5 separate regions of the Homo sapiens genome follow, and regions 2, 3, 4 and 5 are each linked to region 1. The links come from fine-mapping of genetic effects on gene expression. A gene starts in region 1. Each other region holds a variant in brackets. All regions are shown on one strand. Distances are from middle to middle. Region 1 holds the start of CPNE5 (copine 5). Region 2 overlaps CPNE5 (copine 5). Region 3 overlaps CPNE5 (copine 5). Region 4 overlaps CPNE5 (copine 5). Region 5 overlaps CPNE5 (copine 5).

Evidence for each region.
Region 2: its variant is fine-mapped to the expression of CPNE5 in whole blood (TOPMed, PIP above 0.99).
Region 3: its variant is fine-mapped to the expression of CPNE5 in whole blood (TOPMed, PIP above 0.99).
Region 4: its variant is fine-mapped to the expression of CPNE5 in whole blood (TOPMed, PIP above 0.99). The same link has a PIP of 0.9 or more in blood mononuclear cells.
Region 5: its variant is fine-mapped to the expression of CPNE5 in tibial nerve (GTEx, PIP above 0.99). The same link has a PIP of 0.9 or more in nasal epithelium, skin and sun-exposed skin.

Annotation. Positions count from the first base shown.
Region 1 is chr6:36,836,162-36,842,296 of GRCh38, reverse strand. It overlaps CPNE5 (copine 5), which reads left to right and starts at 2,853. Exons shown (of 21, transcript NM_020939.2): 1 at 2,853-3,014. The coding sequence starts at 2,920. RefSeq lists an enhancer at 945-1,495 and a silencer at 2,180-2,389.
Region 2 is chr6:36,737,730-36,743,864 of GRCh38, reverse strand. CPNE5 (copine 5) reads left to right here. Exons shown (of 21, transcript NM_020939.2): 20 at 103-176; 21 at 1,379-3,090. The coding sequence ends at 1,597. It also overlaps the pseudogene GPR166P. Among named protein-coding and RNA genes, the nearest start is that of RAB44, 43 kb to the right of the region's middle. The variant C/A (reference allele first, on the strand shown) is at 2,127.
Region 3 is chr6:36,752,696-36,758,830 of GRCh38, reverse strand. CPNE5 (copine 5) reads left to right here. Exons shown (of 21, transcript NM_020939.2): 13 at 2,533-2,586; 14 at 5,736-5,797. Among named protein-coding and RNA genes, the nearest start is that of RAB44, 58 kb to the right of the region's middle. RefSeq lists an enhancer at 2,270-3,469. The variant C/A (reference allele first, on the strand shown) is at 3,166.
Region 4 is chr6:36,744,740-36,750,874 of GRCh38, reverse strand. CPNE5 (copine 5) reads left to right here. Exons shown (of 21, transcript NM_020939.2): 15 at 2,608-2,654; 16 at 4,298-4,479; 17 at 5,360-5,487; 18 at 5,725-5,827. Among named protein-coding and RNA genes, the nearest start is that of RAB44, 50 kb to the right of the region's middle. RefSeq lists a silencer at 5,742-5,942. The variant G/A (reference allele first, on the strand shown) is at 3,994.
Region 5 is chr6:36,812,905-36,819,039 of GRCh38, reverse strand. The region is part of intron 3 of CPNE5 (copine 5); the gene reads left to right. Among named protein-coding and RNA genes, the nearest start is that of CPNE5, 23 kb to the left of the region's middle. The variant T/G (reference allele first, on the strand shown) is at 2,489.

The sequences.
Region 1 (6,135 bases):
TTGGGGATAGATACTGTGTCCTTTTTGCCTTTTATTCTCTGAGCCTAGGACTGCACCCAGCACACAGCATGTGTCATATATATACATTTTTTTCTTTTTTCTTTTTCTTTTCTTTTCTTTTCTTTTTTCTTTTTCTTTTTTTTTTTTTTTTTTTTTGCCAAATAGCCAGCAGTGAAAGTGCAACGACTAAAAGGGAATGGAGTGACACAGACAAGTGTCTACAAGAGACCCTGGGGCTGCTACTCCAAATGCTGTCACTTTGCAAGGTTACTGGGTAGAACTTCAATCTTACTACTCACCTGCTCAACAACCTGCAATGGCTCCCTATTGTTGCCTTTCCCAACAAGGCCTCATTTCATGGATGATTTTCCATCGTCTGGCCCTATCCTAAAAGAGAGTGGAGCCTCTTGCTCAGAGTCAGGCTTTGGTCTCAACTGCCTTGTTTCACATTCTCACTATGCCAGTCCCCAGCTGGGTGATGATGAGTAAGTTACTTAGCCTCTCTGGGCACTGGCTTCCTTACTTATTAAATGTAGATAATATTAGGTTGGTGCAAAGTAACTGCAGCTTTTCCCATTAAAAGTAATAATATCTCACTTATAAAATTATTTTGAGAATTTAAAATCATGCACGGTCCCTGTGAATATGCTACAAACCGCTGATTTATACAACTTAAAATGGTAATTTTATGGTATGTGACTAATATTTCAAAAAAAAAAAGTAAGCATGGTGTCTGGCCCAGATCTTTGAAAATAAAACGATGCTAATTATTGTTATGAACAAGGTTTCCCAAGGCCCTGTCACTGGGCCAGGCACACAGCAGATGCTCAGTAAACACTCCTGGAATGAATGGAGAACATATTCCACAAGCATGCTTTGAGCATTGTTTATGCCAGGTATGTGGGGGATGGGGAACATAGAGATTCCGAGTTCAGTTTTGCATCCTCAGGAAGGGAAGACAGAATTATTCTCCTTGGAGTGGGGCCTCCTGACCCAGCTGTGCCTGGCTGTCAGGGGAATTAACAGCCTCTGTCCCTTGCTGCCTGTTCCAGGAGGCAGAACCCAGTCCAGCTGATTCTGAGCCATGGGGAAATTGTAACAGGCAGAGGAATGTGTTCTTGTATTTATCTTTGACTGACAGTATCTGATGTTCCAGGAATTGACTTCAAACAGAATCCGGAGGAGCCCCTTATGGTCCCGCTGCCACAAACAAGGCCCAGAGAGCGCAACTCTGCCCAGCCCAGCACCAGGTTTTTGGCCTCCCCGCCGGCCCGAGGCACATCGGCTTCGATGTGCCAGGCGGTGGGCGAGGAAGTGGAGGTTCCAGCTCGGCAAAGCTTAGGCTGAGGCTGAGGATGGGCTAGAGTCAAGTCTACGTGTGCAGCCTTACTCAGGGAGACGCCTCTGCGCTGCAACCTCATGCCCGGGAGGGCAAGGCTGGGCTAGGGCGGGGGATCGCGAGGGGCTTGGCTGGGAAGAGGACTGCAGGAGAGGTGTCCCAACTCTCCCCTCGCTCGCCAGGCACACAGCACGCGCCTACTCGGTGCTGGCTGCATAGAAGCCCAGGGAGCTCGGGCCGATCTCCCAGTCTGGTTGCCACCAGACTGGGTGGCAGGAGCTTCTAGACCTGGAGGCTGGCTCAGTCGTGTGGTCACGACGGGCGGGGGAGTGGAAGGGCGCTGGCGCGTGGTTTCGGCAGCCGACTTGGCGAGGCCGCGGCTGGCGGGAACCACGGATGGGGGAGGCGCCCATGCACCGACCCCACCTGGGCCACTGGGAAACCGAGGTAGTCCCTCCTGGCACTGGGGTCGCCCCCACACACCTCCCCAGAAGGAGATGTAGGGTCTGTTTCTGAACTGAGACCCGCCCCCGAGTAGGGCGCACACTCAGCAGAGACCCTCCACACCCAAGCCCCTGGGAGGGGATCTTTTTTGCACACCTCCCTCCCACTTATGCCCCCTCTCAACCCTGCATAGACCTTTCTCAAAAAGGCGCCCGTTGGTTCCCATAACCCTCCCCCTCCCCCAGGATGGAGACCCCTGATGGGAGATAGGGGTGGTGAGAGGGGGCGGGCGCAAATGAAGATGCGCGCGACCAGGACCACCTCTTGCTGTCACCCGCCACGTCCCCAGCATCTGGACCGCGTCCCCCGGCCCGCCACGCGCGCACACACACACACACGCGCACACACACACGCTCACACTCACCCTGCGCGCAGACCCCGCCCGCGGCCCCGCCCCGGCCCCTGCGGGCGCCCCCTCTGGCGTTCCCGGGCGGCGGGAGGCTGCGGCTTCGGGCAGATTTGATTTTCCCGCAGCCCGGGCGCCCCGGAGCCGAAGCCCGAGCCGAGGAGGTGGCGCTCGCAGCCGCGTCTCAGCCCCGTCGCCGCCGGCGCCAAGACCCAGGGAGAGGCGGCGCAGCCCGGGCGCTCGGGCTCCGCGCTGCCGGCGCCCCGCCACCCCCGCCGCCAGCGCCCCATCCGGCGCCTCCCGCTCCTCACGCCCCTCTCCCTGTCTTCTGCATCCCCTCTACCTCTGCCCACAGACGCGCGTCCCTCTCCTGGTGCCCCTCTCCACGACTCCGCGTTTCCCTCCCGGTGCCCTCTCCCCGAGCCCCTCTCCCCGCGCCCCTCTCTGCCTTCCCCGCTGTGCCCCCGCTCCCTGGGCTCCTTGCCCTTCCCCACTGGGCCCCTAGCCTCCTCGCGGCGTCACCCGAGCCCCCTCCTCGATCCGCGGCCCCCGCTCCCTCCGCCCTCTTCCCTCTCTCACTTCCCACGCCCCCTCTTCGCGCTCCTCTCTCCTCCCCTTGCCGCCCAGCCCAGGCTCTGGAGTTGGGGGAGAGCCCAGGGCTCCAGTCGCTCCGGAGGAGGCGTGAATCGCGCAGGGATTGACTAATTTGGGGTGGGGGGTGCGGTGGGCGATGGAGCAGCCTGAGGACATGGCGTCGCTGAGCGAGTTCGACTCCTTGGCGGGCAGCATCCCGGCCACCAAGGTGGAGATCACCGTGTCCTGCAGGTGAGCCTCCCGCTGGCCGGGTCCCCTTGCCCCGGCCCTGGACGCAGAGCCCCGCGGCCCCTGCCGCTTCGATCCTAAACCTCCGCGCGCCCCCTTCCCAGAGTGTCCTGGTCTCCAGGACTGCGCCCCTGCCGATCTGCCAAGAGCCCCTGTCCTGTCCAGCTGCGGGTGGCGACGGCAGAATAGGAAGCCAGGCTGGGGTCATATCCCAGAAAGTTTGCGCTCCAGGCTGTTGCATCGAGGAGATATGAAGACACAGGAACAGGGGGTCCAGGCACCCAAGTGGGGAGAGGGAGTTGGTAAAAGGCTGTACTACGGTCTCTGCTCAGGCTATCTCTGATCACCCCATCCCCAAATCACGAAGTGAGTGATTTGCCCCCATCCCTCCCAGGCTCGTCCACCCTCTCCCTTCTGTGCCCTCCTCTCTTCTCTCTTTGCCCCTTCTTTGCCCCAGCATCCTGATCCTCCCCTCACCAGTCTCCCCCACCCCACTGTCCTAGACTCTAGGATTTTAAAGCCTTCCTTCATCTCTATCAACAACGAAATCGACTCCTGGAAAAGGATCAGATTGACTCATTCATACTAAGGTGTGGATACATGATAACAACTTAAAGTGGCACCATTAAAAAAATAACTTGGGTCAAAAATCTTAAGCCAAAGGAATAGAACACTGATTGTGAAACTGTAGAGTCCAACAGAGGAGGAGGGGGAATATTTTTGTGGGCTACCACGCCCAAATCTTCACTCATGTCACACAGGGTTTGGGGGTAACTTCTCTGTCTAAGAGCTGGGTCGACCCCAGGTTCTCCTAGCTAGGGGAAGGCTGCCCCTGGCAGTAAGAGGGTATGGGTGGCAAAGGGGGATTTTTCCCTAGTTCAGTCTCTCTGTGGCTGGCCTAGGATCATGTGCTGCCACGCAAGCATCACCCACTTTGAGGTTCCCCCACAGAGGCCATGCCCCCTGCCCCAGATCACCGACAGCATTTCTGGAGCCCTGGCTGTGCCCTTGTTCGAAATCACCCATCTCATCCTCTTCCAGGTTGCTCCTTGGTCAGACCCTCCATGAGAGGTAACCTTGTTGCCCCCCAGTCCTGTATTACAAAGTTGTGGCATTGATGAGGTGTAGGTAGAGCTGGAGAGTCTGGGCAGGGGCGTGAAGGAGGGAAGGACTCAGTGTGACTTTCTCTTGAAGACTTGGGGATAAGTGGCAGTGAAGGCTAGTCTGGTTGAACGTAGCTTCCCCCCTAAGCCAGGCCCTCTGGGGGCTCCTGTGATAGCTCCCAGGTCCCATACACCATGCCGTCAGGATCATCTCCCAACGCCATTTGCATCTTGTCATTACTCTGCTGGGAGATTCCTGATGGCCCATTAGCTCCAGTCTCACCTCCTCAGCCATCAAAAGCAGCACGGCCTCCCCACCCTTCTCCTGCACGCACATCCCTGCGCCTGGCACTCCCTCCCAGCCTTCAATCATGCCTGTCATCTTCAGTTGTCTTGGGATCCTTCCCACCTCCAAGCCTCTGAACAGCCCATTCCCCATCCAGATTTCACTCTTCCTTTATCTCCCCAAGTTCATGATCCCCCCACTCCTGAAAAGCCTGGCCTCACGCTCCCCACTTTCAGGCATCCTCTCACCCATGAGACACACAGCTCAAATCATTGTCTTCTGTGTCCCGTGGGCCCTAGGTACTCAGCCTGGGCCACAGGGTCACTCACATACTGAGGATGAAACCTCTTGAGACGTCTCAGGTGTGCAGACGTCATCCCTCCCCTCTCAAAGCAACTGTGTAAGCATTTGAGGGCAGGGATTCCCACCCTGAGTCAGACCCATGCACCCTCTACTCCAGTGGAGAGGAAAGGAGATGGAGGGCAGATAGTGTGGCTTTGGAGTCAGATACCTTGAAACAGAATCTCTGCTTCACCACTTGGGGCAAATTTTAAGCCTCAGTTTCCCCCACCTGTCAGGTACAAACAATAAGCAGCATGTACTCATGGAGAAACCTTGTTCACCAAGGTAGCTCATGTGCTTAGAGCAGTGCCTGGCACTTGCCAAATACTGTTGGAGGAATTAACTTGCAGGAGTGGAGGAGCATGAAGCACCTAGCAAGCTACTTTGCACTTGCTTGGCACACAGTAGGTGCTCAATAAGTAGCTACAATGATCACCGGAAGGCGGTAGCACCTGGCCCCTCCTGTTTGCTTTCTGGAAGTAAAGATGTCCAAAGGACTCAAACCTCTTGCATAAGAGGCCTTCCTGGGGGATGTGGTTCTGGGGCTGACCCTGGGTCAATACCCTTTTGGGGGACATGATCCATGAGCTGAGGAAGGCCCTGACCTGGGGCCTGCTCATGTTCTCCAGAAAGCCAGAGGTGGGGGGAAGTGGGTTTTGGTGGGGAGAGATGAGGAGGGAGCAGTCACTTAGAACAGAGGGGAGGTGAGAAAACAGTCTGGGTGGCCTGGAAATTGTAGATGCATCTCTCTGCCTCAGCCAGGCCCAACTATTCAGGTTCTAGAACAGAGAGAAAGAGGAGGAGGAAAAGGAGGAGGAGAGGAGCACAGGGAGGAGGGAGAAATGCAGACAGTGGCTTTCTCCAGCATATTCTTCACTCCATGGTCGCCAGTTAAAGTCAAGTCCCTCCCCACTGCACCCGCTCTCAGGGCTCCAGGAGAGGAGGCTCTGGGGAGGCTCTGCCCTGGGCATCTGAGTGACACCTGCTGGTGGGCCCAGAACAGTAGGGCAGGCAGAGGGGCTGGCAGGTGAGAACTCCAGGGGGTTTCAGGATGGGCAGCTGGGGTAGAGGGGCCAATGTTTCAGGGAAGATTATGAGTTGCCACCTCTGGCTCCCAGGAACACTTGTTTCCACTTGCCTTCCTCCTCATGAAGGGGCCTACCACTCCCCTACCACAGAGCCTTCTTCTGCTCTGTGCCTAGGGGAGGATCCTGCACCTGCTGTGCCCATCCTAGGGCTCAGCTAGCTAAGCAAAGCTGCCTGGCACAGGTGCACATCTGAGTCAGAGCACAGGGCCACCACGGGGCCAAGTCTCCACTGAAGGCAAATGACACTGGGGATGGACAGTTTCAGGCCCCTGCTTCAGGTAGAGTATACTATACTCCCAAACAAT
Region 2 (6,135 bases), 98 kb after region 1:
GCCCTGGATTGGCCTGGGATGAAAGGACAAGTCCACTCTCCTGCTAGGGCCAGGGGTCCACCGTTAATCTCACCCCGCCCCATGACACTCCTCCCCTCACAGCCATGGTGGAGCTGGATGGCGACGACGTGCGGATCTCCTCCCGGGGGAAGCTGGCTGAACGCGACATCGTCCAGGTGAAGCCCAGGCCTTGCCTGCCCCATGGGAAATTCAAGAGCCCCTCTAGCCAGGCGGACCTCACACCCCCTTTGGGGGCTTCCCTGGTGAAGGGCCCAGAAGGGAGGCACTGGGAGCCCCAAAGTGGCCCAGCCACCACCGAAGGGAGTAGGAGTCAGTCCTCGGCCATGCTGTGGTCTGGGCTGGGCCCCCCTCTGTCACATCTGGGACACACTCCTAACATTGCGGGTGCCCAGCCAGAGGCCAGAACCCTCTGCCAGCCCTTCCTCAGCCTCCAGGCCTCTGTGGTCAGCCTCGTTCTGGTTTTTTTCTGCCCCTTGAAGGCTGAGGCAGTGTCTTTAGTGTTGCTGCAGCCTTCTCCAAGAATAGGCATTGCTCGGTTAACTGAATCAATGTAAGCATCTCCATGAACGGTGCAAATATAATGAGCAGAAAGACCTTTGTCCTCAGGGAATTCCCATGCAGTCTCACGTGGAAGAATGCACCCTCCGCAAGCACTTCCCCCACTCATCCCCTGCAGAGGAGGCCCTAGTGCTTAGGAGATGCAGAAGACAAAGCTGACATCCTGCATACCCCCTTGGTTTAAAAATTGGGGCCCAGTATCCCAGGTGTGGAGACCAAACATAGGGGGCTGGAAACCAGAGCAAGACAACCTGGGAGGTGGGACCGGCCCATGCTAAGGCCTGGAGGCAGGAGTGAGCCAGAAGAGGCGCTCAGGATGGAGGGCACCCCCGGGAAGAAGCCAGATGGGCCTGGCATTAGGCATTGGCCAGATTAGCCCCAGAGAGAAAAGGAACGAAGAGAGGCCAGAGAGAGAGGGCTCTGCTGGACAGGTCGGGGGAAACCCAGGAGGGCACGTGCCCCAGAAGTCAGGGATTCAGTTGGCATTTCGGAAGCACCTACTCAGAGCCTGTGCTTAGTGCCGAGGTGGAGAAATCGTGTTCAGTGGTGTGTCCTGGTGTGGAATAGGGCTCAGTTTTTGTCGAGTGAATGAAAGAATAGTGACTATGACTATAGTTACTGACTGCCCAAACCCAGGGAGTTGAGGGATACAGTCCCTCAGGTAATTCAGAAAGGTGGGGGGATTGAGTCAAGTGAGCAGAGGCTGGGAGGGGGGTGGGGATGCAACCCCAGGCCTGGAGATTTTGGGGGCCAGGGTCCCACAGGAGGCACTGCCTGACCCTGCCCTCCCACTTGCCAGTTTGTACCCTTCCGGGACTACGTGGACCGCACAGGCAACCACGTGCTGAGCATGGCCCGCCTGGCCCGAGACGTGCTGGCAGAGATCCCTGACCAACTGGTGTCCTACATGAAGGCACAGGGCATTCGCCCGCGTCCCCCACCCGCAGCACCAACCCACTCGCCCTCGCAGTCCCCAGCCCGCACGCCCCCTGCGTCCCCCCTGCACACGCACATCTGAACCTGGTCTCAGCAGGCAGGTGGCTGGGGCCTGGGAGAGGCCAGGTGAATGGGAGGCCAGGGCCCCAGACTCCCCGAAGTTGGCCTGCCCGGCCTTTGGGACATCTGTGTGCCTGGGAGGCTGCCAGGGGGTGGGGCTTCTGAAGACCCCTCCTCAATTTCTTGGCCTCACTTATTGCCCAAACCCAGGGAGTTAGGGGGGTACGGGTGAAAGAGGGGTACACAGGGACCCAGCCCTTCTCTTCTTCCCCAATACCTGGCTCTAACCCAGCCAGGAAGGTGTAAACAATAAGGGTGATTGGGGTCCCTGTCGCCCACCCCCGGCAATCCTATTTGCTTACCTGTCACCCTGAAGCCTGGGCTTGGCCTCCTCCAGCCCCCCATCTCCGTCCCATCCTCCCATGGTGTCTACTCCTGTCCCTGAGCCCCGCCCTGTGGTCTATCCTGTGCCCGATTTCCAGTGAACCCCATGAAGCTGATGGGTTTGCAGGAAGGCCTGAACATGTGCACCCTCCCAGGGACACTGGATG[C/A]GCTGGGAGCCCCGGGGACCCCATGGGGTGCTGTAATCATGGACCGTAGGCCATGTGATGGGCCTGAAGTGGAGGCTGCTCAGCACAGAGCCCTTTCTGGTGCCTCTCGAACTCAGTACGATGCAAGTTCTAGACACACAGATGGCCTGTGGAGGCCTCTCCCTGGTGTGGGCCCACAGGTACTTCCATGGTTGACTCCTGGCTTCAGGAATCCCTTCCTCCCTCCAGAGGCTTCCCAGGGCCCTCGGTGCCCACGCCTCTGCCCATCTGGAGGCCTGAGTAAGGAGTGGCTCAGCCCCACGTTCCCACACTGCTCCTGCTCTTTGCCCTGTATCCCATGAGGCTAGGAGACAGGAGTCCTGGGTTTGAGCCCTGCCTCCCCCCACTGCCTAATGTGGGAACCCAAGCAAGGCCCTTCTACCTTTTGGGCCTCAGTTTCCATGTCTGTACCACAAGAGGGTTGACCAGATGGCCCCAGGTTTTCCTTTAGGTCTGACATCCTGAGGGTCATTCATCCCATGCCCAGTTCCCCCCATCCTACTCCTAACAGATGTGACCCTACTTGAGGCCGCCTTGGCTTTTGGGTCACCCTGTCTCATCCCATCACCCCAAACATACCCTAGTCCTTCAGCCTGGGGCTCTGGCATCTGAGCCCGAGCTCCTGCCCCTGCTGTGGGAAAGGTGGGGAAGAAGGGGATCTCCCTCCCGGGCCCACCCAGCTGCCCAGCCTTTGCCCACTCGGGGAGCAGATCATGCATGCCAATCCCTGTTGCCGCATGGAGCTCCTCAGCCCACTGACCTCTCCGTGCCTGGTGCAGGCCAGGCCCCCGTCTTCCGCCTGCCTCTGCTTCCCCGTCATGCATGGTGGTGGTGTTTCTACGGTGTCTGGTTCTGTGCCCGTCTCTGAGACAGTCTCTGTGTGGAATTTGCCTTAAACTGAAGTAAATTTGGTTCTTTTAGTAAAGCACGAAGTTTTTCTTTCTTCTCTGAAAAATAGCACTGACGTTGCTGCTTGACAGGGTCCAGTTCTCCTCTGTGGCTTCCTTCAATTGTTTGCTTCAGTGAGATTTACAATCAAAGGCCACGTGCCACGCTCTGTGCTAGGCATTGAGGATGCAGCCATGAACAAAGCACAGACCCTGTCCCTGCACAGGGCTTACAACACACACACAGATAATATGGGAGAGACCCAGCAAACACATCAACAAATAGGCTAGTAACATCATTTCAGGTGGTAGCAAGAGTTCTAAAGACACATGAGGGAGAAGGAGGGTGATGTTTTCGATGAGGTGGTCAGAGAGGGCCTCTCAGAGGAGGTCATGGTTGAGGTGAGCCCCCAGGAAGTAAGACAGGGAGCCACGCTGATATCTGGGGAAGGGAGCTCTAAGTAGAGGGACCAGCAGGCGCAAAGGCCCTGTGGTAGGAGCTTCCTTGGTGCATTTGCAGGAGAGCGAGGCCAGTGTGGCTGGAGCTGAGTGCAGGAAGGGAAAGTGCTAGAGATGGGGTCGGAGAGGTGAAGAGGCCAGAATGCACAGGCCGCATAGGCCATGATGAGGCCTTTGGCATTTACTGAGTGAAACGGGAAGCCATTGAGGAGGTGAGAGAAGTGAGTAACATCATCAGAATTTCCTCTAAAATAAACGGATTGCTTTATTGCATTTGATCACTCATTCACTCATCTCTCAACAAGTATTTACCAAACATGAGTGCCAGGCCCCACTCACGTATTGGAGACCATGCTGGAGATGCACACACAGAATTGCACCCTCAGGGGTGCCCCTGCTCTGGGGCAGTGAGCGAGGAAATACTACAACCATGGGGTACTGATGCCAAGCCATCAGGAGGGGCTGGGTAATCTGTGGGCACCAGAGTCACTGTGCCATGAGGAGGAGTCTGGCATCCCCTGTGCAATGGGGTCGTCACCACCACCCCCATCCTTGCAGGGTCATCGTGTGGCCAGAGTGACGAGTACATAAGGTTGCATGTGACATATGTGACATGCGCCCAGGACCCATGGCATTTTAGGTGCCCAAGAAACACTGTTTTCCTCTTGTTCCTCTTCACATATAAATCCCTGTGGCCATCAGGGACCAGGATCATAGCAAAAGGGGATTTCTCCCTTCTCTGGGCAAGTTTGTTCCCAGATTAGCCCTCCAGGCAGCCATTCCCACCCTGAACATCACAAGAAATTTGGAACTAATTATACCAAAGTTTGGGACTTGTTTACTTCTTATGATTTTATAGTAAATGGGTGCTGATTCACGGCTGTCCCTATAATTACATGCCCCTGTGACTTACATTCTGATATGCTTTGAGTGGGAACAGGGTGGGGTCACAGCTTGGAAGGAGGGAAGTTCCCATAACCAGCAGCTCATGTCACCTCACCACAGGGGCCGTGGGAAAGTGTCAGGAGAGGGTGCTTGCCTGGCAGGGGGACTGAGGCACAGAGCCACTGCCGGGGGCGGGACGGGACACCAAGAGCATCTTTGCTGTGCCCAACACCGTAGCATCTTGTGGATTCTTTCCCAAGGTGTGTTCCACAGAATACTGGCTCTCTGGCATGGAGTTTGGGAACCTGCCTGCTGTGCGTCCCTCTCGAGAGTCTCAGTGGCCTTTTGGGTATTCAAGGCTCTGGTAAGTCCTACAGCAAAGGGACCAGTATGATTTGGTTCAACCCAACGTTTCTCAAGCTTTGTATCACAGAGTCAGTGTGTGTATGTGTGTTTTGCTGGTAACACCGTCACCAAGCAGAACGTGCTGTCTTGGGAATTTCAGTAGAGACAATCTCCCGGGTTTCCAGGCCAACATGGAAGCCTGAAGCCTGCCCTGAGCAGGCCAGAGGGAGGGCACTGAGGGTGGGAAAAATGGAAACCTCAAATTGGGCTCTGGAGAGAAGAAAAGGGCTCTGAAAGGGATCCCTGCCCCAGGTGCTTCAGGAAGAGAAGCCACAGGGAAGAAAGGAGGGCTTCAGACATTCACAGTCCCGGAGTCATGGCTGCATGGTTGACTGGATTTTTGTCCCCCTATTGGACTGAGGGGTGTGTGGAACAGAGCTGGAGGGGTGGGCAGAGAGGGGAAAGGCTGTCCTGCCTCTGAGCTCACCCCCCAGGCTGTGGCTGGCCCTCTGCTCCCCCTACTCAATCTCCTGGCCTTCAGGATTAAGGACCCTAGGCTGTTACCCCCCAGATCATTCTCCACCCACTTCTCTGCCTTTGGAAGCCCCTCTGTCCTCCTCTTGTCCACTCACCTCAAATACCCCTGAATTAATACAAATAAAATAATAATAGTAGCAATGACCAGCACGCATATGCACTTACTAAGCATCCTTCTAAGCACTTTACATGTGTTTAGCAAATTCATCTTCATAACAACCCTGTGAAGAAGGTATGTACTGTCATCATCCCATTTTCCAGATGAGAACACTGAGACACAGAGGCTCAAGATCACACAATTAGAGAGCAGTGGAGCCTACAGAGATCTGAGCCTGAAAGTGGAGTGGGAGGATCCATCTGGTTACCTAGAGATGTGAGCTCTAGCTGAGCCATTTAGTTGCTTTGTGACCTTGTTTGGGCCATCTGCCCTCTGGGTCTCAGTCTCTCCACTGGTAAAATAGAGGGGATGGGCTGTCAGGTCCCTAAGGGTCTTCCCATCTCCCTTGAATCTCAGCGCATCCATCAGCCTATACTCTTAGACCCCCGCCAGGCCCCACAGGCCTCCTGAGGCCCTGTCACGGCCAGGCTGGACAGTCGCCACCACTGAGGCTGCCACTCCCACACCTCTGGGATGCCTGGCCATCATCGGCCTGCAGAAGAGGTCCCTGAGTCCTGCCTGGAAGGGGCGGGAGAGGTAGAAGCAGAGGATAGGGCTGACAGCGCAATTGGAGTAGGCCAGGATGGTGCAGAGGCTGGAGGCCACAAAAGCAGCCGGTGTGGCAGGCAGGTAGCCCATGGCTGCCACATAACCCAGCATGGAGCAGGGCCCCCACATCAGCACAAAAACCACCAGCACC
Region 3 (6,135 bases), 83 kb after region 1:
TCAGTTTCTACCTGCACAGCTTGCCAGACCTCCCACGTGAACTTCCCACCTGTGCCCCAAATCCAGCGCCTTCCTTCTGTGTCTACCTGGTCACCCCAACCCCTCCCTCTCTCGAACCTCTATAGCCACGCCCAGGGCCCAAGAGGCGTGGTCACTTCTTGACAGCGCTGTTCTCACCATAGCTCAGCACCTGTCCCAATACCCCCAAGTCCTCATGACCTCTCGCATGGACTTATGGTGGCAGTAATAATAGTAGTAGTAATTTTGAAAAATAGCAACTAAGGCTGGGTGCAGTGGCTCACGCCTGTAATCCCAACACTCTGGGAGACTGAGGCAGGAGGATTGCTTGAGCCCAAGAGTTTGAGACCAGCCAGAGTAACATAGCGAGATCCTATCTCTACCAAAAAAAAAAAAATAGCCAGACATGGTGGCAGCTACCTGGAAGGATTGCTTGAGCCCGGGAGGTTGAGGCCACAGTGAGCTATGACCCCACCACTGCACTCCAGCCTGGGCCATAGAGCAAGACCCCGTCTTAGAAAAAAGCAACAGACACGTATAGATAATACTTACTACATTCCAAACTGTTCTAGGCACTTTGCTTGCATTGGCCCATTTAATCCTCATACCTTTCCGGGAGGCAGGTACTTCTTATTCCCATTTTAGAGATGAGGAGACTGAGGCACATTGAGGTTAAGTAACCTGCCTAAGGTCACACAGCTATTATTAGGTGGCAGAACTAGGCAAATATTTCCTGGATGAGCCTCCTCCTCCCCTCACACTCACCTCCACCAGGCCCCAGTGTCCTAGAGCCTGCTCTGATTTTGTCTCCTACCAGCTTGGGGGTCATCAGAGTTCCCTGCAGGCCGCTGGGTGACATTCAGACATTTTTCACTGGGCATTCTAGGCTCTCCTCCAACCAGCCCAGCTTACTCTTCCACCCTGTGGTTCTGCCATCAAACTGGGCCTGGGTTCTATTCATTTCTCCCACAGAACCTCCTCTGACATCCATCTCTCCGTGCCCAGAGCCTTCCTGTGCCTCTAAGTCTGCCTTCAAGACTTCCTGCTCCAGAGAGGCTTTGCTGACACTCTCACCTAGAGTGGTCTTTCCTTCCTCTAACTCCCCTGACACTTCTGTGATCCCCCTTGTTCCATGGCCCTTGTCACTTTTTGCCCTGAGGACATATCTTCTCTCTCCAACATAGGTGATAGATGATTCCAGGGGAGAAGCAATATATGTCTCCACCCACCCCATAAATGTATGTCAAAGAGATCTGTTTGTATCTGTTATCAAGGTGGCACCAATGTATGCACCACTGGCCCGGGGGCAGGAAACCTGGTTTCTAATCCTGTCACTACCCAGATGGCTGTGTGACTTTAGGCAAATCACCTGGTGTCGCTGTGCTTTAGTTTCCTTCTTGCTGGAAGTAGATAGCAATACTCACCCAGACAGAAGAGACCACGGTAAAGATCAGCTGACGGCCTCTGTGGGAACAAAGACAGGGAAAGGGGAAATGAGTTCACCAGAAACCAACAGGCAGCACAGGAGGTATGAAAATTGCCTGGCTTTGTTTGATGGGACATTAGGGAAAAGTTGTGCCTAGACTTCCCTTATTAAAAACAAAACAAAGAAAAACTGGCGAGGGTCAAATGAGAATACAAATACAGTAAGTGCGGAAGTCTCGTGGGGGGCCTCAGGGCTGGGTGGCTCTCGTCACTTTGCCCAGTCTTGGCCTTGGCACTACTGGGATTTGGGACTGCATCACTCCCTGCCGTGGGAGGCTGTCTTGTGTACTGTAGGATGTTTAGCAGCATGCCTGGCCTCTACTCACCCCCTCAGTTGTGGAAACCAAAACCGTCTCCAGATGTTACCAAACGTTCCTGGGGGTAAAATCGCCCCTGGTTGAGACCGCTGAGTTAGCCACCAACAAGCCTTCTCTGAGCACCTACTCTGAGCCTAGCCCCATGATTTATCTGACACAGGTCTGGTTTGGAAGTTAAAGCTTACACTCAAAGAATAGCTAAAGAGGTTCTTGCTGCCAAGTAAGAGGGATGGTGATGGAGAGGGGAGCCTCAGAGGCCCTGGGCAGCCCTTGGGCTGGGTCCCAAAGGAGGAACAGGGGAGATTGGAATTGGCTGAGAGAGGAAGGGGGTGCATTTTTGGTGAGGGGAGCAGCCTCAACCAACACAAGGGACAGGTACAGATAGGGCCGCTTTGCAACATCAAGACTTCTTTGGCTATACTGGGTGGAGGGTGCGTGTGTTCCGGGGAACAGTGGGAGAGAAGGTTAAATAAATATTCCCGGTTGATCGTGGGACCCTGGGTCTGATGGGAGAACCCAGTTGTGTAACCCAGACTCAATACCAGTCTCCCACAAATCCTCCTTAAACCCTTCTCCCCTGGCCCCGTGGTCTTCACACCCCACACTCTAATGGGGCTGGGCTTGGACCACACCCATGGGTGGTTGGAAGCCCTCAAGACTCACCCTGACTGCCTGGAAGCATGCCTTACCTGGTAACTGGTTTTTCCTGCAGGTGGTAAACCCGAAAAAGAAAATGAAGAAAAAGAAATACGTGAATTCTGGCACAGTGAGTAGCCACCCCGGTCTCTGCAGCCGGGTGTAGACATTCTGAGCCCCAAGCTAGGTCTGGTATCAGGGAGGCCCGTGCGTCTGTGTGTGTGCAGGGGCTGAGCGTGGGAATCAGACATCCAAGAGAGATGGGGTGGGGAGGGGTGGGGCAGATGGAGCAACAGCCAGGGGAGAGAGTTGACTTGCAGACCACACAACAGGCGCTGGCTGTATCTAGCATGAGGAATCGCAGAGACATCCACGGGACTTCCTGCAGGAAGGAAGAGGAAGAGAAGTCGTATTTATTGGGCCCCTACCCTGGGAAATTCCCCACGTTGGTGCTTTTCACAGGTTGTTGCCCTGAGAGGCAGATATTATCATCCCCTAGTCATGAAAGAGGAAACCAAGGCTGCAAGCAGGAAAGTGACTCAGCCAAGGTCACACAGCTAGAAAGTGGTAGAGATGGGACTCAACATGACATCTCACTCCAGAGCTGGCAGCTGCTACGGGCGCTGCCCCTGCTTAACCGTGACCTTCCTGGGATGACACGCCGGCCTAGTGGCTTCTCGGGGCTGGTCTTGAGGACATTCATACGCTT[C/A]TTCAGCAAATACTTACTGAGTGCTACTGTGTGCCAGGCACTATTCTAGGCACATCAGATACAGCTGGAAACAAGACAGACCCAAATCCCTGGTGCTTATATTCTAGTGGGAGGAGACAGAGAAAAAAAAAAAACACACACACACACACACACATGCCTGTGTGTGTCAGTTGATTATGAGAGCTATGGAAAAAGTATAAAGGGTAAAGGGACAGGCAATGGAGGAAGTATTGAGGATACTGGGGAAAGGGAATTCCAGCATTCCTGCTGTAGAGAACAGCACATGCAAAGGCCCTGAGGTGGAGCTCACAGTGCATTTCTAGAACAAGCCACTTTCTCTGCAGTGCAAACACACCCAGATTCATCCTCTCTGTGTTCCTTCCTCACTCTAGAGGCCCATGGCTAGTGCAGCCAAGCCTGGTCATTTGAGTCAGGCAGACTGTATCTCCAGACCTAGAAGAGGTTTTCAGGAGCTCTGGGGTTCCTCTGAGAAGCCTCATTTTCTCCGTCTGTAAAGTAGGACTAATAAATCATCCCCACCTTGCCACTGCACAGGGCAGCTGTGACAGACACATGGGAGATGCAGGCTTGTGAACTGTAAAATTACTCTGCTCATTCAAAGGGGACTGAACACCACTTCTTTGATTGTAACTGCTTCACAGACTGGGGCTTGGAGTCATATTTCCTTTGTCCAAGGCTGCGGTGTTTCTTAGTGGAGAGGCTGTCAGCATTTGGGCAGGAAAATTCTTCATCTCACAGGATGTTTAGCACCCCTGGCTGCTGCCCATAGCTACCAGTAGAGCCCCAGTCATTATGAGAACCCCCAAAATTCTCCCACGCCTTCCTAAATTCCCCTAGGGAAGACAGCACCTTCCCCAGCTGGGAATAAAAAGGTTCAAAAACCACTGATCTCATCCAGCCTTCTTACTTTAGAGACGAAGAAACTGTGGCCTAGAGAGGGCATGCGATTTGTCCCAGGTCACACAGTGAGCTGGAGACAGAGCGGGCCTAGGCCCAGGTCTCTTGACTTTCCTTTTACTCCAGCATTTCCCCATCTTCATCGCGAAAAATCACCCGGGATGCAGAAAGCTTGCTGAAATACAGACGCCCAGGCCAGTTCCCTGGGATTCCACTTTAGGAGGCCCAGGAATCTGTGTTTAGTGCTTTTCATCCCTTACTTATGGTGTGCAGAATCCCCTGGGGATCTTGTGAAAATGCCAAGAATCTGCATTTCTGCATTTCTACCTGGCATCGAGGTGATGCTGACGCTCTGGTCTAGGGACACTACCCTTTGAATAGGGGAAAGTCTGCTTTCACCCTGCGAGCCCCTGGGTGAACCCATATGGTCAGGGCAGTTAGGGCATTGCTTCATCCTGGGGGTTGGAATGGGGAGTGGTCAACTGTGTCTGCAGATTAGACTTACGTGAAGAGCTAAAAAAAAAAAAAAAAAAGAAGATCTCTGAAACATTCATGTAGCCCCGGAAACTCGGCTATAATGGGTCTGGGCTGCAGGATGATCTAAGAGCCCCCAGGGCATCTCATGGTCATCAGTCAGGGTTGAAGCCACTGCCGTGGTTCCTAGTAAGTCTGAGCTGCCACACTTGGAAGGAGGCCTGTGGTTCATCCAGGTGCCTAATACCTTAACCACAATAGCTGGGGGTCTTACTGCCAAGTAAGGGTGGTGCTCTCACCTGGCCCTCCCAATGAGCCTGTAAAAACAGCTGAATCTTCATGAATAGGGGGCTCCCAAACTACCAGAGAGGAGTTCGTTCTCTTACACAGGTGAAAGGTCCTCTGCCCTAATCTTGTCTCATATAATTGGCCTAGGATGCCAGGCTTTCATTTGTCTCCTTGATTCTAAATTGTTATGATAATGAGCTGCCAGGTAGCTGCCTGTCTTGGCAAAGCCAAAGCTAACTTTGCCAGGGCATAGGTTAAAAGGCCTCTGCTTGGGGGAGGGGGCCTGGGGTAGTCAGTTACCTCTGGGGAAAAGGATGGGCTACTTATGAGGCAGGATCTTGGGTCTGAGAGGGATGAGATGGGACCAGTAAGATTTAAGATAAGCACAGTCCAAAGAGGCACATTTCAGGACTAATAGCTCTAGGCACATGGAAGCCTGAAGCTGGTCGGCATTGGCAGGTTGTTAGGCCTGTGCCAGGAGGGCCCCCTTGTCCTCCACACCCCACCCTAGGTCCCTGGGGCTGAAGAGCCAGTGCCCACTTAGAGGAAACTAACACCCTTGGCTTGGACCCCGGTTCCACTGACACAGATGGGACCCTTCCGTCAAGGTCAAGAGTGCAGGCTCTGAAGTCAGACACACCCTGGTTTCAGATCCCTTCTCTGCCCTGGCAGTGTCCTTGGGCACATTGCACCACCTCTTTGGGTTTCAGTTTCCTTGGCTATAAAGTGGGGATAATAATAGTACTTCATGGGGTGGTGTGGGCAGTGCATGCAGTCATGCATGCAAAACTGGCACATGCCGAGTGTTCTGTCAATGTCAGCTCTCGAATCATAACCCATCTCCCCTGACCCCAGGCTCCCCACTGACCAAGCTCCCTTTTGTTTTGAAGGTCACCCTGCTTTCCTTTGCTGTGGAGTCAGAGTGCACCTTCCTTGACTACATCAAAGGAGGGTGAGAAGAGATACAGCCAATTTCATGGGCCTTGGGGAGAGGGAAAGGGCCCCACACACCGACAGGACCGGCTCTGGCCCCACCCTGGCCTCTTCAAAGCCCTGGTTGAAGGCTGTGGTGCTGGGCTCTGAGCAAACCCTGGTGTTTGGGCTGAGACAACTCATCCAGAGCCCTGCACATCCCCAGATCCCAAGCAGCTTGGAGGGAACTCCTGAGCCAAGGAGGCTGGCCTGGGTCATGTCAGGTCTCCATGCAGAGACAGGACCTGGAGCTGGTAGGGACTCCGTGACAGAAAGCCAAGGGCTTGGGGATGTAGAAAGAACCCTGCAATAGGAGTC
Region 4 (6,135 bases), 91 kb after region 1:
ACCCAGGGCAGGGGAGGACTAGTTAGAGCAAGGCCTGCCTTTCCCCTCACCCTGTATTTGGAAGAGCCAGTCCAACAGTGTCCCTCCAGTATAGTCCCACAGGCCAGAATCATCTTCCCAAGAGTGGCCCTGGGAGCGGGACTTTCACCCTCCAAATGTCTCCCTACCTCTAACAAAGACATGCGTTCTACATTCCACACTGAAGCGGGGGTGACAACAAACAGCAGATGAGTATGGTAGGTCAACTGCTGTAACACATAATTCCCTAACCTCAAGCCTTCATACCAATAAAGGTCTGTTTTTCATCTGTGGGATGGCAGGGTTGGGTGGGGAGATGATCCACGCAGTCATTCAGGGACCCAGGTTCTTGCTAGCTTTGCGGCTCCTTCTATCCTACTGCCTGGAATCCTCTGGATGCTCTGCCCCCAGCCAGCAGAAGAGGAGAAAGAGGTGGGGATGACTGTCTGTGGCCAGCAGACCCTGGCTGGGGTCTCCTGCTAACCATGTCCTTGACATTTCCCTGGGGGTGAGTGAGGGTTCCATGAGCAGCAGCTCAGCTGTGATCAGGTGGTTTCTGATAGGGACCTTCTGCTGTGTCTGTGACAGGGATCTTGGGCTGATAGAGCTGTGGTTTCTGATAGGCACCTTCTGCTAAATGCAAGTGAGGTGAGGCCTACCTGATCTTACATCATCCATAGCCCCAACTAAGAATTACTAGAACAGAGTTTTCCCCAGCGTTATCCCAGCCTCGTGTCCTCATAATCCCTGGATGAAGGCAGTGGACATTTTTTCAAGAGGTAGATTCTGGGAGCCACTCCAGACAAACTCAATTGGCATTTCTGGGGTGGAGCCCTGGAATCTTCTTAAGCAAGCACCCGTAGTGATTCTATGCTCACTGCCGTGTGAGAACCATAAGACTAGACTTTATCAGGGACTTGTGTTTGTCAGCTTTGTTCTGTCTGGACCCGGCAGAGAACCTAGAATGGCCAAGCCCTCAGAAAGTCTCAAGCCTGAATCTGAATCCTCAAAACCTAACTTTTTATTATAGAAAACGTCAAACACATGCAAATGTGGAGAAAAGGTATAATCAACATGCAAGTACCCTTCACCCAGCTTCAGCCATTACCACATCATAGCCAGTCTTGTTTCATGCACTCCACCCTTCATTCAGTCATTTATTATTATTTTTTATTTTAGTGGGTTTTTTTTTTTTATTTTTGAGGTCTCACTATGTTGCTCAGGCTGGCCTTGAACTCCTAGTGTCAATCAATCCTCCCACCTCAGGCTCCCAATATCCAATTTGAAGCAAATCCCAGCCATCATATTTTATCCCCAAATGCTTTAGGATGTCTTTCTAAAACATAAGGACTCTCTCTTTATCAAACATAACCACAATACCATAACCACACCTAAAAAATTAACAATTCCTTAATACTAAATATCTAGTAAATGTTTACATCTCCCCAATTATCTTATAGTTTTAAAATTGGTTTGTTTGAGTCAGAAATCCAGGCAAGAGCCATAGGCTGTGATTGGTGGGTTGGTCTCTTAATTCTCTTTTCATCTATTCATTCCCCCCAAGCACCTGAATGGCTTGCTAACACAGATTCCTGTACCCCACCAAGAGAATCTAATATTCAGCCAGATGTGGTGGCTCACACCTGTAATCCCAGCACTTTGGGAGGCTGAGGCAGGAGGATTACTTTTGCCCAGGAGTTCAAGACCAGGTTGGCCAATATAATGAGACCCCATCTCTGCAAAAAGAAAAAAAAAAGCCAGGTGTGGTGGTGCGTGCCTGTGGTCCCAGCTATTTAGGAGGCTGAGGTGGGAAAACTGCTTGAGCCCAGGAGGTTGAGGCTGAAGTGAGCTGTGATCACGCCACTGCATTTCAGCCTGGGTGACAGAGCGAGACCTCTTTTCCAAAAAAAGATTCAGGAGAGCTAGATAGAGTCTGAGAGGCCCAGCATATTCCCAGGAGATGGTGCTGCTGCTGTCTCTGGTAGTGCTTCTACAGAGTTTCCCAAAGACTGGATTTTGCTGGCTGCATCTCCTGTGGTGTCATTTAATGTGTTCCTCTGTCCCTTGTATTTCCTGTAACTAACTAGACAGCTCTGGAGCCTCAATCAGAATCAGGTTCAATTTTTTGGTAAGACAACTTCATGGGTGGTATTCTATTCTTTCTTTAGGAGATGCATAATGTCTATTTGACTCTCTTTTTTGTCAAATGAGTTTTCGTCCTGAATCTCACTCCAAATTTGAGTCAGCAATCCAATGAGACCCAACCTCACCCAGCCTACACAGGTGGGCCCAGGGGGTAGGGTTTGTGGAGGAAATAAGTGACCATAGCCACATGCCCACACAGAACACAATCATCTTCAAAGAGCTTTCCTACTGCATAACTCTTCTGATGCTCATTAATCCTGTAAGGGGGGCATAGCTGGCATTACTATCTCAGCTCTCCAGAACTAGAAAGAGATGAATGACTTCACCAAGGCCACACACCTGGCAAGCAGCAGAGCCAGGGTGGTAGCCAATGTCTAGCACTGTCCCCCCTCCCACAGCCCTGCCTCCCTCCAGGTGACTCCCCTGCTGTTCTCCCTCTTCTAGGACCCAGATCAACTTCACTGTGGCCATTGATTTCACTGCCTCCAATGGTGAGTTGGGGGATGGGTAGAGGAGCAGGGTGGGAGGAGAGAGCTTTTAAGGGCTGTGGCATCTGGCCCTGGCTGGGACCATGACCCTCATACTCTCTGGCCTCTTCCTCACCAAAGAGGATGTACCTAGGTCTGGAGGACCAAAGATACAACCAAGATGGCAGTAGTATCCCCAGGTTGGACCATTGACATAAATCTGGGCTCTGAGCCACAGCCTTGTCCTTGAGGAACACCCAGTCTCCCTGGGGGAATGGGATTGTGTGTACTCTGGGCCTATGGAGGGCCCTGGAGATGTTTCCCCCCGGGATCAAATCCCAGCTCCTCTGTGCAGTCCAACCCACAGGCTGGAGTGGAGAATCAGAGCCAAGGCTGAGCTCTGTGGTGTTCAGGGAGGCAGGATCCAGCCCAGGGACCCCAGTCCTTACCTGGCTGGGGCTGCCCTGGCTTCCTTACCTCCTCCCAATTTCTCCAGTGTCAGCCTGTGGCTGAGTCACTAGGAGCAATAACAGTGCCCAACTTTACATGATTAGAAACATCACAACCTCCCTTGGGCTCTGGGCTCTATTAGGGGTGCTCAGTGCTAATTTTTGCACCAATCAAAAATGCCCAGGTCTTGCCCTCTACAGGTGTCAGGAGCTCCTCTTATAGCTGTAAGTCCTAGCATCATAGAGCACTGGGCTATCAGAGCTGGAAGGGGCCTTAGTAATAATAACACTGAGGATAGTTATCATAATATCGATAGCATCTGTGTAATATTCACATCAATCCTATGAAGTAGGAACTATTATTGCTCTGATTTTACAGGTGAAGAGACTAAGGCTAAGGTTAAGGAACTTACCCAAGATCACATAACTAGCAGGAGGTAGACAGGATTGGTACCTTGGCAATCTGTGCTGTACTACCTCCCATCAATGAACAAATAAGTTAAATACAGACTATATTGGCAGCGAAGAGGGCTCTGGGGGGGGAAATCAAGCCAGGAAGAAGGATAGGAAGGATTGGGGGAGGCTGTAATTTTTAATAGGCTGCTTGGAAAAGATCACACTGAGGAGGTGACACTTGAGCAGAGACCTGAAGAGGCCAGGGAGCGGGCCAGGGAGTGGACATCTGGGGAAGAGTGTCCCAGGTAGAGGGAACAGCCATCACCAAGGTCCTGAGGTGGGAATGGCGAGGGGCTGGTGAGGCTGGGACTGGCGAGTGACAGGGAGGAGGGTAGGAGATGACCTGGAGGCCAGATCATGAGTGCTTGCGGGCTCTTGTGAGGACTTTGGGTTTCATTTTGGGGGAGGTGGAGGCATTGAGCGTTTTGGGCAGAGGAGAGGCATGATCTCTCTGAGGC[G/A]GATAGGCTCAGTCACTGCTGTGCTGGATATGGGCTGGAGGCACAGGGGCAGAAGGAAGTGGGAGATCAGTTAGGAGACTGCTGCATCCTATAAGCAAGAGGGTGGTGGTATGGGGAGGAGGAGAGGCGGAGGAGGGATTCTAGATCTGTTTTGCTGAAGGATTTAACATGGGGTATGAGAGAAAGAGAGGAGTCAAGAATTAATAAAAGTTAGGGGTGCCCTTGGACACCCCCTTCTTCATTCTGAACCCGGGGTGACTTGGAGGGTCCAGATGGTCAAAGGCTCCCATGTCCTGTGTTACAGGGAACCCCTCACAGTCCACATCCCTGCACTACATGAGCCCCTACCAGCTGAACGCCTACGCGCTGGCGCTGACTGCCGTCGGAGAGATCATCCAGCACTACGACAGTGACAAGATGTTCCCTGCCCTGGGCTTCGGGGCCAAGCTGCCCCCGGATGGCAGAGTGTCCCACGAGTTCCCACTGGTAGGTGGTCCCGCTGGTGGGAGAGAGGACTGATCAGGCTGGGGGTGAGGTGACAAGCTGGGGGTGGGGGGACGTTTCCCTTCCTCTGAGCCCGGGGACTTAAGGCTCAGCCTCAGTGGAGGTAGACTGCCTGCTGTGTGTAGGGGGGCTCCAGAAATCCACTCCCTTCCCTGATCACAGATGCTGCCCCTCCATGTCTGAAGCTGCCTGCCCACAGCTGGCCCTGGCTTCCTTGTTCCTGACAAGACGCAGGTGCAGGTGGAGGCGAGCTGTGGCTGACCCATCCCTCAGGGCCCCAGAAAAGTGAACAAGGTGGTGTGGGTTGGGTATCCCTGAGTCAGTGCTGAGATGGGATGACGTGGATCTCCAGGGTGATGTGGAGCATGGCGTCATCTGGGCATCCCGGGCCCTGTGGAGATGATTGCACAGGCCACCCCTTTCCCTGGCTCCCACGAGCTGGGGACACTCAGGCACAGCAGACGTCCCTCCCATGCCTGAGGGTGCAAGGTGCTGTGCTGGGCCCAGTGTGCACGTGGACAGATCAGCCACAGGTCCTTCCTGAGTTGCTGAGACCCAGCAGTCATTTTAGGGCAGAGTGGATTTACCCAAGGTTCCCTGAGGGAAGCAGCCAGGGATCTTGGGGCATCTCTGAACAGGTACAGGGAGCCGGGTAAGGAGCAGGTTTGGACCCAGCTCACCTGAAGCATGCACTGCTTCAGGATGGGCCCTGGGAGCTCCCTCCCCTGCCCCGCCACCCCACACCAGAGAAGACCTGGGGGAGCCCAGGCCTGCTGGCCTCCCCACCTGGACTCAGTTCCCACACATCGTGCACCCCTGTCCTTCCTTCCTGGGCTCAGCCTCCCTGCCCTCTGTCCCCCAGAATGGCAACCAGGAGAACCCCTCATGCTGTGGCATCGACGGCATCCTGGAGGCCTACCACCGCAGCCTGCGCACTGTGCAGCTGTACGGCCCCACCAACTTTGCCCCCGTGGTCACCCACGTGGCCAGGTGAGTGCCGCTGCCACCGCCTCCAGGCACTCACAAGGCCTCTGTTTCCACACCAGCTCTGCCTCTGGGTGGTGGGAGGGGGTTTCTCTTCCCACGCACTTGCCTTTCAGGGAGCCCTGACCCTGAAGAGATTCCCCCAAGAGCTGTCACCCTCCAAAGTGTTCAGGGTCCTTGTTTAGGGGGGAACATGCCCAGAGGTCCCGCAGACAGACCTGAGCCCACACCTGCCCCACCCAGGAATGCAGCGGCCGTGCAGGATGGCTCCCAGTACTCGGTGCTGCTCATCATTACTGATGGGGTCATCTCGGACATGGCGCAGACCAAGGAGGCCATTGTCAACGTAAGCAAGGAGTGTGCGGTGGGGGAGGCGGTTTGAGGAGTGTCTTCCTCCCCGTTAGGGGAACCCTGGGGATGTGCCTACCTCCTTGACCTTAGGGAAATGCTTGGAGATGACTTGGGCGTGGCTTCTCATTTCCCTGCCTCACTGGGCCCCACTGCCCTCATCCACCTTCTGGCCTCTGGCTGCAGAGTCCGGTGCTGGATAGTGGATTCTAGCGGGTGGAAGGGGTGCCCAGATCATGAGAGATCTGGCTGGTGAGCTCTGTTCCCACCTCTTAGTCACGCTCTGGTCTACTCCCTCCAGACCCC
Region 5 (6,135 bases), 23 kb after region 1:
CCAAGAGTCTATGCCAATTAAAGCATAAACCAGATTGCTAGGGAAACATTTAGCCTGCTTAAGTGAACTAATGACTTTTGAGGCCTTTTGGCTGTGCTTCATAAAAACCAGGAATGTGTTCATGTCCTCGTGATTCATGAAGGAAAGTGTGGAAGGGCTCTTCAGAAGGGCACTCTTTGGTGAGCCATTAATTACATTCTGTAATTGAGAGTTGTCTTCATTTGGTTGAGGGTTTCTGATTGTCCAAGTCACATCTTGTTACTACACCCGCCGCAGGGTGGAGTAGAGGGAAGACAGGTGGCCTTGGTGTGGAATACACCTGTGCTTGCTCCTGGCTCCAGCCCTTTCTGGAGGTGGGGCCTAGAGCAAGTTACTTAACCTCTCTGCACCTCAGTTTCCACATCTGGCGTCTGAGGGTAAATCCTACCTTATAGGCCTGCGGTGAGGGTGAAACGAGATGACGGAAGTAAAGTGCCTTGGTGCATGGTCAGTGCTTAGTAAATATTCATTATACAGCATCATCCAAAGTGTTTGGGGCCTTCCTGGTCACTCTTCCCATCTCAGTTAATATTTGCAACAGGAAGCATTTATGAAGTGCCAGGCGCTGGGGAAAATAGGGAGATGGGTCAAAAGAACAGAGCATCACCAAATGTGTGAATTGGAACTAGAGTTGCAGCCTGGGAGGGGAGATGCATGTGGATGAACAATCCTAACGGGAAACGACGAGAAGGGAAGTATGGATGGAAGAAAATGGGAGTTCAGGGGAGGGAAAGTCGCAGCCAGAAGGCCACATTCAACTAAGGCATTTTGACAGGTCATTTGGATTTTTTTAAATGGAATTTGAGCCCAAGCACAAGCCATTTGCCTGGGGTGCATGATGTGGAACAGAGGAGATATGGGTTGGAAGGAACTTTCAGGATCATCTGGCTCAACCTCCTCATCCTACAGACGGGGGCAGGACTGGCCTCAGTCTGTGGAGGAGCTGAGTTGAGCTGGGTTTCAGGTTTCAGTGACGTGCGAAGACATAACCCAGGGGCCCAGTAGCATCCTGCACTGTTGAGGGATGTAATAAAGGGGTGGATGGGGTTCAAGGAAATCAATGAAAGATGGTGAGTCTCAAGGGTAGCAATAGGAGGGAGCCATTACTACTCCAGGCCTTGGGAGGAAGGGGAGTCCTGGTTTCTAGAACCCCAAGGGACTTCCAAACAGGACCAGGAGCCCCACTGGAGGGACAGAGTCAACTCAGGCAACCTCAGTCTCTTCCCGTCCTCCTATCTCCTGCTGGTGCCTCCCATTGGTGGAACCTCAGTAGGAGACCTAGGGCCAACAGACCATTGGGGCAGTCAACTTGGGTCAGTCTTTCTTCCTGGGCACAGAGCAGTGTGGGGAAAGGCTGGGTGTAGAAGCAGAGGGGCCAACGGGGGCTGTCCAGCACAGACAGAGGAGCATGGCTGGTGTTCAGGATGTGAGGCTGGCAAGATACAGGAAGAGTCAATACAGGGAGTTCATGGATGTCAGGCTGAGGACAGCTGGAGTTGTAGAGTGAGAATGTCAGAGCAGAAGGGTCCGTAGAGATCAAGGAGGCTGACCTCATTTATGAGAGGTGAGCAGGACCCGTGCCCAGACTCCAGGAGTGAAGATGGCAGAGCTCAGCCACGTGGGCCACCCCTAGGGCACATGCTGTTTCACAGAGCTTTATTTATTCATTTATTTTTGCGTAGAGTTTCACCCTTTTTGCCCGGGCTGGAGTGCAATGGCATGATCTCAGCTCACTACAACCTCTGCCTCCCAGGTTCAAATGATATTCCTGTCTCAGCCTCCCGAGTAGCTGGGATTACAGGCATGCACCACCACGCCCAGCTAATTTTGTATTTTTAGTAGAGACAGGGTTTCACCATGTTGGCCAGGCTGGTCTTGAACTCCTGACTTCAGATGATCCATCCGCCTCAGCCTCCCAAAGTGCTGGGATTATAGGCGTGAGCCACTGCACCCGGCCTTCACACAGCTTTTTCTGGAGAAAGGAAGATGCATCTAAACATACTGGGGATAGCTTAGCCGACTTGGCAAGACCCGTCCCTACTGAAAATCTAAAAATTAGACAGGCATGGTGACCCACACCTGTGGTCCCAGATACTTGGGAGGCTGAGGCAGGAGAATCGCTTGAACCCAGGAGACAGAGGTTGCAGTGATCCTAGATTGTGCCACTGCTCTCCAGCCTGGGCAACAGAATGAGACCCTGTCTCGAAAGCAAACAAACAAACATACTGGGGACGGGAGAGGGGCTGTAATTCCTTGCTCGATTCTCTGTGCGACCCACAGAGGAAAGTATCAGGAATGGAGAATTAAAGAAAAATCCAGATTGTCTCTATGGAACCGCCTCTGGGATAGAAGACTGCCCTTGCAAGTAAACAGGAACCAGTTCCCACCACTCCTCCATCTAGTTCATTGCCCTTCAGGAACAAATCACCTCTCTGTTACCAGAATCTTG[T/G]CCGAGAAATAATAATCCTGTGGTCAGGGGAAGTCAAGTGCAGGCACAGCACTTTCTCTGTACGTGGGGTTTGCATGAGGCTGCAGATGAGCCAATCCTGGGAGGGATGAAATCTGCTCTCGTGGCCCCTGGCTGCCGGCTTTCAGCTGGTTTTAACCATTTGGGTCATTTTTATGCCTTCTGAGAAAGCTCCATCTTCCCAGCACCTAAATCTGTCACCACATTTCATGAAAATTGACTCAAGATGTAATTTTAGCCCAGAAAATCAAGCACTGTTTGCATCAAGTCCTGCCAGGGCCTTCTGCATGTCCAGTCAAATGCATTTGTCAGATGAGGCCTGAACTTGATGTCCAAAACCCTGGGTTTTCAGACCAGCTCTGATATTTACTGACTGTGTGACCTAGGTGAGTTATTTATCTTCTCAAGTCTCAGCTTACTAATCTATAAAATGGGGCTAAGAGACCTTCGTGGGTAGACTAACTAAGGCAGGATGGCCAGGTGGGAAGAGTCCCAGAAATGCTTCCACTGGGAAGAGGGACATGATAGGGAACCCCTCTAGGTTTCCCATTTGAAAAGTGGGTATGGAGATCCCTGCCCCTCCCTCACCAGGCAGCTGTCTTGGCTGAGGGCCTCTTGGAAAAGAAATGGGAATCACAGAATCTTAGGGTGTCCAGCAGATCGCCCCATACCACTGCAGTCATTGGCCCCAGCCACCACACCCACATGTCCCTGCCAAAGCACTCAGTCTCTTTTTTGAGGAGAATTAGCCTGTTAAACTTTTCACCAGCAGCTGAAATTGATGGTTCATCTCTAAATATTCTGAATGATCTTCCTCGGGGCAACTTGACATGTGTCTTCACATAACCTCTGTGAGCATGTGTTGGGCACTGTCTTAGTCTGTTCAGGTTGCTATAACAAAAATACCATAAACTGGGTAGCTTATAACCAACAGAAATTTATTTACACAGTTCTGGAGGCCAGGAAGTCCAATATCAAGGCACCAGCAAATTCAATGTCTGGTGAGGGCCAGTTCCATCTTGCTGTGTCCTCACATGGTGGGAGGGATGAACACACTCTAAGCCCATTCATGAGGGCTCTGCCCTCCTGACCTAATCACCTCCCCAAAGCCTCACCTCTGAATAGCATCACAATGAAATAAGAATTTCAACGTGAATTTCAGAGGGACACAAACATTCAGACTACAGCAGGCACCTACTATGTGCTGGGGGATGAATGCTGGGGGTGCAAAGGGGGACCAGACACTGCCTACAACCAGAGGAGCTCACTTTCAACCCAGGGAGATGACACCAATCACAGTAATGATAATGGCAAACACATGACAGCAATGTGCAGACACTGTTCTGTTCTTTTTTTTTGTTCTTTTTTTTTTTTTTGAGACAGAGTCTTGCTATGTCGCCCAGGCTGGAGTACAATGGCACGATCACTGCTCACTGCAAACTCCACCTCCCGGGTTCAAGTGATTCTCCTGCCTCAGCCTCCTGAGTAGCTGGGATTACAGGCGTGCACCACCACGCCCGACTAATTTTCTATTTTTAGTAGAGATGGGGTTGGTTTCAGGCTGGTCTTGAACTCCTGACCTCCAGTGATCCACCTGCCTTGGCCTCCCAAAGTGCTGGGAATACAGGCGTGAGCCACCGCACCTGGCCATAGACACTGTTCTAAGTACTTTACCTGCATTAACTCAATGAATCCTCACAACAATCCTATGAAGGAGGTATTATTATTATTATTGGCCCCATTTGACAGAGGAGGAAACTGAAGCTTTTCATATCACTGTTTTCTGTCCCTTTACCAACCTGAGCACCCTCCTGGACAGCATGTGTCCCCGCCATCCCCTTCTGCAGCCCAGAGCATCATGGGCTGGCTTCCTCCACACAGGGGCTTGCCTTAGATCATCACGCTCCTCCCTGCTGGCCTCTGCATTCTGTGTCTGCTTCTGAGGATTACACATCTAGCGACACTATCTAATATGCCACTGATCTTTTGGCAGGTGTTTTTGACTTAATTCGTACTGAGTTTGGGGACTTCTGTGTCTTTCTCCATGAGTTGCTGTCCAAATAGCTTTGCCAATTTCCCTACCTCAGAGTTGGCAATGAGTTTTTGAACCTAAATCTGTGATTTCACATTTATTGCCATCATGTGTCGTTTGTTGGATTCAGTCCGTTGTTACAGTTTATGGAGACCATGTTGAATTACGATCTTGCATTCAGCATCTTGGTTATGCCTCTTGGTCCTGGGTCAGCTGTAGTCCTCACCGACACAGGTGACAAGGAATTGAATGGGATGGAGTACTGCGTTCCTCCACTAGAGATCTTTTCCCAGATTGACTTCAGTTTTTTAATTGACCTTTGGGGTAGGCCGTTCAGCCACCTATGTGCTATATTTTCCCATCTGGTCCCTAAAGACATCATGAATAACAGTCAAATGCATTTGTCAGATGAGGCCTGAACTTGATGTCCAAAACTCTGGGTTTTCATACCAGCTCTGATATTTACTAACTGTATGACCTAGGTGAGTTATTTATCTTCTCAAGTCTCAGCTTACTAATCGATAAAAAGGGGCTAAGAGACCTTTGTGGGTAGACTAACTAAGGTAATGCTTATGAAAATGCCTGGAAATATTAACCGCAATCTACCATTGACCTGGGCACTCCATCACAGTGGGAGAGGCCGCCCTTGGAGATCCTGTGAACCAAGCCAAACTTGGTGGCACTGGAGCTGAGTCTTGAGTGGTGCCATGCATCATTCTGGGGGGCAGGGTGTTGCAGGTGGAGGGAACAGCAAGTGCAAAGGCCCTGAGGTGGGAACAAGCTTACTGTATTTCAAGGACAAAAAGAAGGCTGGTGTAGTTTGAGTGGTGTGAACAATTAAGAAAGTGGACAATACGGTCACAGAGGTCATCAGGTTCAGATCCTGTAGGGCTTCAGAGGCCATATAAAGAGTTCTGATACTGATCTAAGTGTGATGCTAAGCTACTTGAGGGTTTTATTTTGTTTTGTTTGAGATGGAGTCTTGCTCCATTGCCCAGGCTGGAGTGCAATGGCTCGATCTCAGCTCACTGAAACCTCTGCCTCCCGGGTTCAAGTGATTCTCCTGCCTCACCCTCCCAAGTAGCTGGGACTACAGGCATGCGCCACCATGCCTGGCTAATTTTTGTATTTTTAGTAGAGGCAGAGTTTCACCATGTTGAGCAGGCTGGTCTTGAACTCCTGACCTCAGGTGATCCTCCCTCCTAAACCTCCCAAAATGCTGGGATTACAGGCGTGGGCCACCACACCTGGCCTATTTAAGGGTTTTAAGCAGGGGAGTGATGCAACCTGGTTTATGTTTCAGAAAGACAGCCCTGGCCACTGTGTGCAGAGTGGACTGCAGGGGAAAGGGCAGAAGCAGGAAGATAATTTGCAGTCTTGTGGAGGTTTTGGAATAAGACTGTGGTGGGCATGAACACAGGGGATCCAGTTCGTTCAATGCCAAGAGTTTAAATCTGAAAAGAAATAACCCTCTGCCTGCCTGGCCTTGAGCCCAATTTAGGATCCCTGGTGACCTGGCCTTGGTCATTCCACATAGACCATTATCTAAAGATACAAAGGAATGAGTGGACCATCAGCATTGCTAAGGCACAAAGCG